Linked DNA regions of Homo sapiens: region 2 is linked to region 1. The links come from fine-mapping of genetic effects on gene expression. A gene starts in region 1. The other region holds a variant in brackets. All regions are shown on one strand. Distances are between the middles of the regions.

Region 1 (2,902 bases):
TCAAATCTGCCCACATTCATAGATATAGGCTGAGTGGGACGATGGCTTGAGCCCAGGAAGGAGTTGGATGGAGGCTGTAGTGAGCTGTGATTGCACCACTGTACTCCAGCCTGAGTGACAGACCAAGACCCCGTCTCAAAAACAAAACAAAAAACCCCAAGGGAGCTACTCTTGGCTGGGCGATCAGGGAGGGCCCTCCTGAGGAAGGGGCACTTAAGCTGAGATCGGGAAGATGAAGTAGAAGAGTTCCAGCTGCAGGGAGCCACATAGGCAAAGGCCTGGCGGTGGGAAAGGCTTGGTGCACTGGGCGCAGGGAAGAAAGCCCAGCGAGGCTGAGTGGAGGGAGTGAGGGCCTGGCCACCTCAGCCTCGTGAGCCCAACCCGCCATGCTCTTCCAGAGGCTTCTGCTTGAGAATGGGAAAGAAGTTTCCAGCAAATAAGGCCCCCGTTCCCAGGAGGAGGTCCCAGCTCGCCCTGCCCCCTCCTGTCTTCTCAAGTCCCCTGGGCCACAGAAGCCTTGAGGGACCCACCCTCACCCCTTCTGTGGGCCCCAGGGCTGGGGTGTCCTCTCGCCGATGGCCTTCTTGGGGTGGATGAGTGGAGATTACTCCAATAACTGGAGCCTCTGTCTTCCCAGGTAGACAGGCCTGGCCTCAAAACCCTCTCTCCATCAGGAGCAGGCTGTGGGACTTCAGCTCTTTGGAGCCTCAGGTTCCTCATCTGTAAAATGGGAAGATTCTTTCTTCCGGAGTCATCTTAATAAAATGTGTTGGGCTGTTTATACAGGGCAGGCATTTGGTGGGGGCCAAACCACCGGGTAATTATGCTAAAAATAACTATGATTATAGGTGGCAGAGGGGTGCAAATGCCTCACAGCCTCATCCCGCAGAGGAATGAGAGCTTCGTCAGGGCCGGGACCTTGTCTGGCTCGTGGCTGCTCCCACGACGACTGGCGTGGCAGGCACGTGGTCAGTGTTCCGCCATCGACTGACTGGGCGGATGAATGATACATAAATGAATTCGCGAACGACTGATGCCCAGCTTCCTCCCGAAGCAAGGTCATTCACCTCAGCGGTCGCGCCTCTCCCCTGCCCCTGCCCCGGATTCCCCGCCGCTCTCAGCTCTCGAGGAGTATGCAGCACTCTTCCGTGCAGCGTGCCTCAGTTTCCTCCGCTGTAAGCAGGCGGGACCAAGGCAGCCTGCCGGGGTCAGGATGAGGCTGGCAGAGGAAGGGCGCCTGTAGTGGGGCCCCGTACCCACGGGCGCCCAATCCGCGCTCGCCAGGGCCGAGCCCGCCCGCCGCGCGCAGCCCCCGCCCCACCGCCTGCCGGCCCCGAGCACACGTGACTCCGCCCCGGCCCGCCCCGCCCCGCCGTCCCAGCGCGGGCTCCCATTGGCCTTTCTGGGAGGCCCCGTCCCCAGCCGGGGAGGAGCCGGGCCCCGCCCGCCGCAGCGCGGGGCTCCTGCGTCCCGAGTGCGCGGCGGCCGGACCGGGCGGGCGGAGCCGGGCCCGCGGGGCTGCTGCGGGGCGATCGGGCCGGGCCGCTGCCGCGCCATGGTGAGCCGGGCGGGGCAGGCCGCGCGCTCGGGCCGGGCGGGGGCGCCGGGGCCCGGGGGCGGGAAGGGGGAGGCCAGGACGAGGAGGGGCGCGCGCGGCGGCGGGGCCGGGCCGGGGTCTGCGGGCGGGGGAGGGGCGGCCCGGCGGGCGCGGCTCGGGGGAGGGTCCGTTCCAGGGGCCGCGCCCGCGGGCTGGGGTTCTTTGTCAGCGGCGCTGCGGCGAGATCCGGACAAAGGAGGCGGCGGGGGGCGGAGGCCGCTTTGTGGGGATCGCGGGGCGCTCGCCCCCGCCCGTGCAGCCCCCGCCCGTCCTCAGCTACGCTCCCGCCTTCCCCCGGCATTTCGGGGTTCTTCAAAATTCTGGGAGCTCCGGGGAGGGCTCCGGGGATAGGGGTCCAGGTGACGTCCGGCGCCCGTCTCGCGGGTAGGGAAACTGAGGCCGGGCCGCAGCGTTCGGCGCCCGGTTCCGTGGGCAGCGGCTGCGCGGCGTGGGCATGCCTAGCTCCCCTGGTCCCCGTCCCACACCCCGCCTCCGTCGGGCCGATTCGAGCTACCTCCCCAGCTGCCGTCCCCTCTCCAGCTGTCGCCCCCTGGGCCGAGCCCCCTCCTCCCTGGAGCCTCGCTTTGCTCCTCCGTGGAGTGGGGGAGACGCCGGCGCCGCCGGGCAGGGTGGAACGGGAGGGTGCGCGGAGCGCGCCTGGCACCGCGCCTGCCACGCCGCCCGCGCTCAGCACTCGGGAGCCGCCGGGGCGCTGTCACCCCTAAGTCCCCAGCACCCAGCCCAGGTCGCCCAGCCCGCCCCAGCGAGGGCCACACTGGGGTTCACCTGTCCGCGGCCCCTCAGGCACGCGGGAGAGGAGGTAGGGAGAATGTGGCATTTTAGAGTCAGGGTCGAAATGCGGGATTTTGGATGCAGGTTGCCTGGGTTTGAATCCCTGCGCGTCTACTTTTGAGCTGTGTGACCTTGGGCAATGGACTTAACTTCTCTGAGCCACCAATTTCTGTATCTGCCAAGAGGGAACAGTAATAGCTCAACTGCCCTGTTGTCTTGAGGCAGAAAGGAGACATCTGCGTGAGCTGTTTATCTCAGTGTCTGGCACATATAATTGCCACCAACTTTCTCCGGCATCTACAAGCAAAGTTGTTTGGCCAAACAGGCCAACCCTGGGGCAGCCTGTGAAAATGACCAGCGGGTGATTCACAGGGTGGGGGCATGAGCCTCTGGCCTGGCCCGAGGAAGACCCCGACTGACCTTGGGGCAGTCCCGGTTCAGAGCTCTGCGGGCTCCCGCTTCCTCTTTTGCCACTGGGGAACCTAGGGGATTCTGGAGCGAGTTTCCTCTTCT
Region 2 (2,902 bases), 22 kb after region 1:
TACTAAAGAGAATTCATGATCAGCATCTGAGAAACACTTAGTTGGCTATGTTTTTGAAACATGAAACCAAGAATTATTTCCTAATCTGAATAAAGCCTAAATTCTGAAACTAGCCTAGAGACAGCTGATTTATGAGTTAAGTCTCTAAACCAACAATGACACACAGTAGGTGTTTTTTACAAGCTCCCTAAGAATTCTGTCACTAACTGCAGGACAAAGAACAGCTAGGCTAAACATTTCAGAGAAGATACAGAAGATGGAAAGAAATCTAAAGAAGGCTTCTTTCAATTACCCTTAAATTCAAAGTGAACACATTATGAGGTCATTAAACACTTGAGCATTACTGAATGGAATTCAGGAAAATCTAATACAGACTACCTCAAAAATACATGCTTGTAGGAACACTGACCCCATTTCTCTGGAGTCTCTTTCCCATTTAAAAAAAAAATGCTTGTTTCATTTTAAGAAAGCTCAACACATCAAAATGACTTTAGATAACATGAATTGGGAGTAATCTATAATATCGACAGATTTATGCCCTTCAAAAAGTGACTGGTCACAGGGTTCTTTTACACAGTGAGGAACTCTTGGATTTATAATATGTAACTTGATATAGAAAAATCAATATTTACATAAAGCCTTTTCACAAATGTGTCTAATGTAAGAAACAAGCTTCACCTAGATTTGAAAGAGGATGGCTAAAAAGACTCATATGTAGAAGCTCTGAGTCTACTGTTGAGTTCATACTTTAAAACTTGAAATGAAAGGTTTCCTTCCCTACCAAATTCCTCCTTTCTCCATTCGGCATACACTGACCCTCCCTCCCGTTTCCAATGAGGCTGAACTAACGTGGCTTTTGAATTCTCACTTCATTGTGTGTAGTCAAGGGCATCAGCAAATTCCTGGGAACAGGCCAGGGTGGGTCAGCCCAATGTTGCTGCCAAGTCCCAGGGGCAAGCTCTGGGTGCTTTCTCATCATGGAGCCTTACTCCTCAAAAAGTGGGTTTTGCTGGTTTGCGACTGACACTTATTTATTTGCACTTTACACTTGTTACAGTGTAGGTACCCCAGGTCCCAGCAATATTACTCAGTACATTATGAAACAGCAGCAGAACAAATTAGGTCTGGTGGCCTTGATCCTTAGACATTTAAGCCTATGAGACAAAAAGGGAGGCAAGGCGGCTCTACTTCCTTCTTCACTGCTCTCTTTTTTTGGAGACGGAGTCTTGCTCTGTCGCCCAGGCTGGAGTGCAG[G/T]GGCGCGATCTCTGCTCACTGCAAGCTCTGCCTCCCAGGTTCACGACATTCTCCTGCCTCAGCCTCCCGAGTAGCTGGGACTACAGGCGCCCGCCAACGCGCCCGGCTAATTTTTTTTTTTTTTGTATTTTTAGTAGAGACGGGGTTTCACCACATTAGCCAGGATAGTCTCGATCTCCTGACCTCGTGATCCACCCGCCTCGGCCTCCCAAAGTGCTGGGATTACAGGCGTGAGCCACTGCGCCCGGCCACTGCTTTCTCTTTAAGCTCCTTTAGAACAAAGCTGCTGTCAAGGCTCACTTTCATCAGCCCCTAGGACATCCCACCAGAATAGCTCTCCACCTCCCTGCCTGTTCTAGTCCCCAAGTCCCCACTGCCTGCAGCTGGTTCTACCTTAGACATGTGACAGAAATCGCCAATTTAGAAAGTGGGACTCTTACCCCCACCATGGGCTAAATGACAAACTTATCCAAAATTCAGAGTGAGGAAGTTTCTGTTCCATTTAATAGACAAAATTAGCTTCTTTGAAAATTATGACTGATGGTGGTCTAAAGACTTAAAATGAGCTACGAAGGTGACATCACCCCACAACTAAATGTAATGAGAGCCATCAATAAAATTTACCCATATGAAGTCAAGCAAAATGTACAATGCTTGGGGAAATAAACTGCCTGCAGTACCTAGGGTGAGCTTCATCAGTGCTTGCTTTGGATCCAAGATGTAATGAGATTCTTCTTTCACGTCAACAATTGCCGCAAATTCTTTCACCTGAGTGGAGCTCGGAGCACCCAGTCTCTCTGCATATAACCAAAACAAATTTGAATCCAAAAGGTAGATGTTGAGAGTCTTGTTGGTTCTGCAGCTCAGGCCTGTGAAGTTTGTGCTAGTCATGTCCACTTCTGGAAAGAGATACCTGTTCTCCTCAATGTGAGGAACGGAGCTTGGGGCATCAACCTCACATTTCTTCTCAAGGGAAGAAAATGCAACAGTAGGGGCTTCAAAGACACCTTGTTCAGAGTCGATGAAGCCTGACACACCCCTGCTTATGGTCCTGCAACATGCAGTGTAGTAGCTGAAGGGGCTATAGGAAGTTAAAAAATTGCTGCATTCTATGCTGTCTGATGCCACATGATAAAAGGTCTGCTCCTTGAGGTAGAAAGAATCCAGAGCTGCTGCCATTTCAAAAAAGCTGCACTGTGGCACGCTGACCGAGCTCGGCTTCATGCCCCCGGAGGTCTGGTTGACACAGAGTTCACAGACGTTGTGGGTCCTGGAGAAGGAGTGCCACTGGGGCAGCACCACAGTGTTGCAGCAGGGGGACGCTGTGATCGTTGGCGGGTCTGGCAGCTGTGCCGGCACTTCCAGGGCCAGGGACTCCAGCACTGGAGCATCCACCCGCCGCAGGTGCTGAAGGAGACGCTCCACCACCTGGTCCCCATGACAGTTGTTGTACTCCAAGGCCACTTCGGTGATCTGAAATACAGGGCAGAGTTGGTGAAGGGCTTGGGGATGACTGAGGGACTAGCACCCCGTTAGCCACGTTTCACTTTCTGTAATTTCAGTTATCCATGGTCAACTCCGGTTCAAAAATACTAAATGGAAAATTCCAGAAATAAACAAGTCGTAAGTTTTAAACTACATGTCGCTC

Evidence for each region. PIP is the estimated chance that this variant, and not a neighbour inherited with it, causes the effect.
Region 2: its variant is the best candidate, but not a certain one, in a credible set for the expression of SNN in whole blood (INTERVAL, PIP 0.59).

Annotation. Positions count from the first base shown.
Region 1 is chr16:11,666,983-11,669,884 of GRCh38, forward strand. It overlaps SNN (stannin), which reads left to right and starts at 1,473. Exons shown (of 2, transcript NM_003498.6): 1 at 1,473-1,558. RefSeq lists a silencer at 1,146-1,565 and an enhancer at 2,673-2,772.
Region 2 is chr16:11,689,356-11,692,257 of GRCh38, forward strand. TXNDC11 (thioredoxin domain containing 11) reads right to left here. Exons shown (of 12, transcript NM_015914.7): 8 at 1,935-2,727. Among named protein-coding and RNA genes, the nearest start is that of SNN, 22 kb to the left of the region's middle. The variant G/T (reference allele first, on the strand shown) is at 1,255.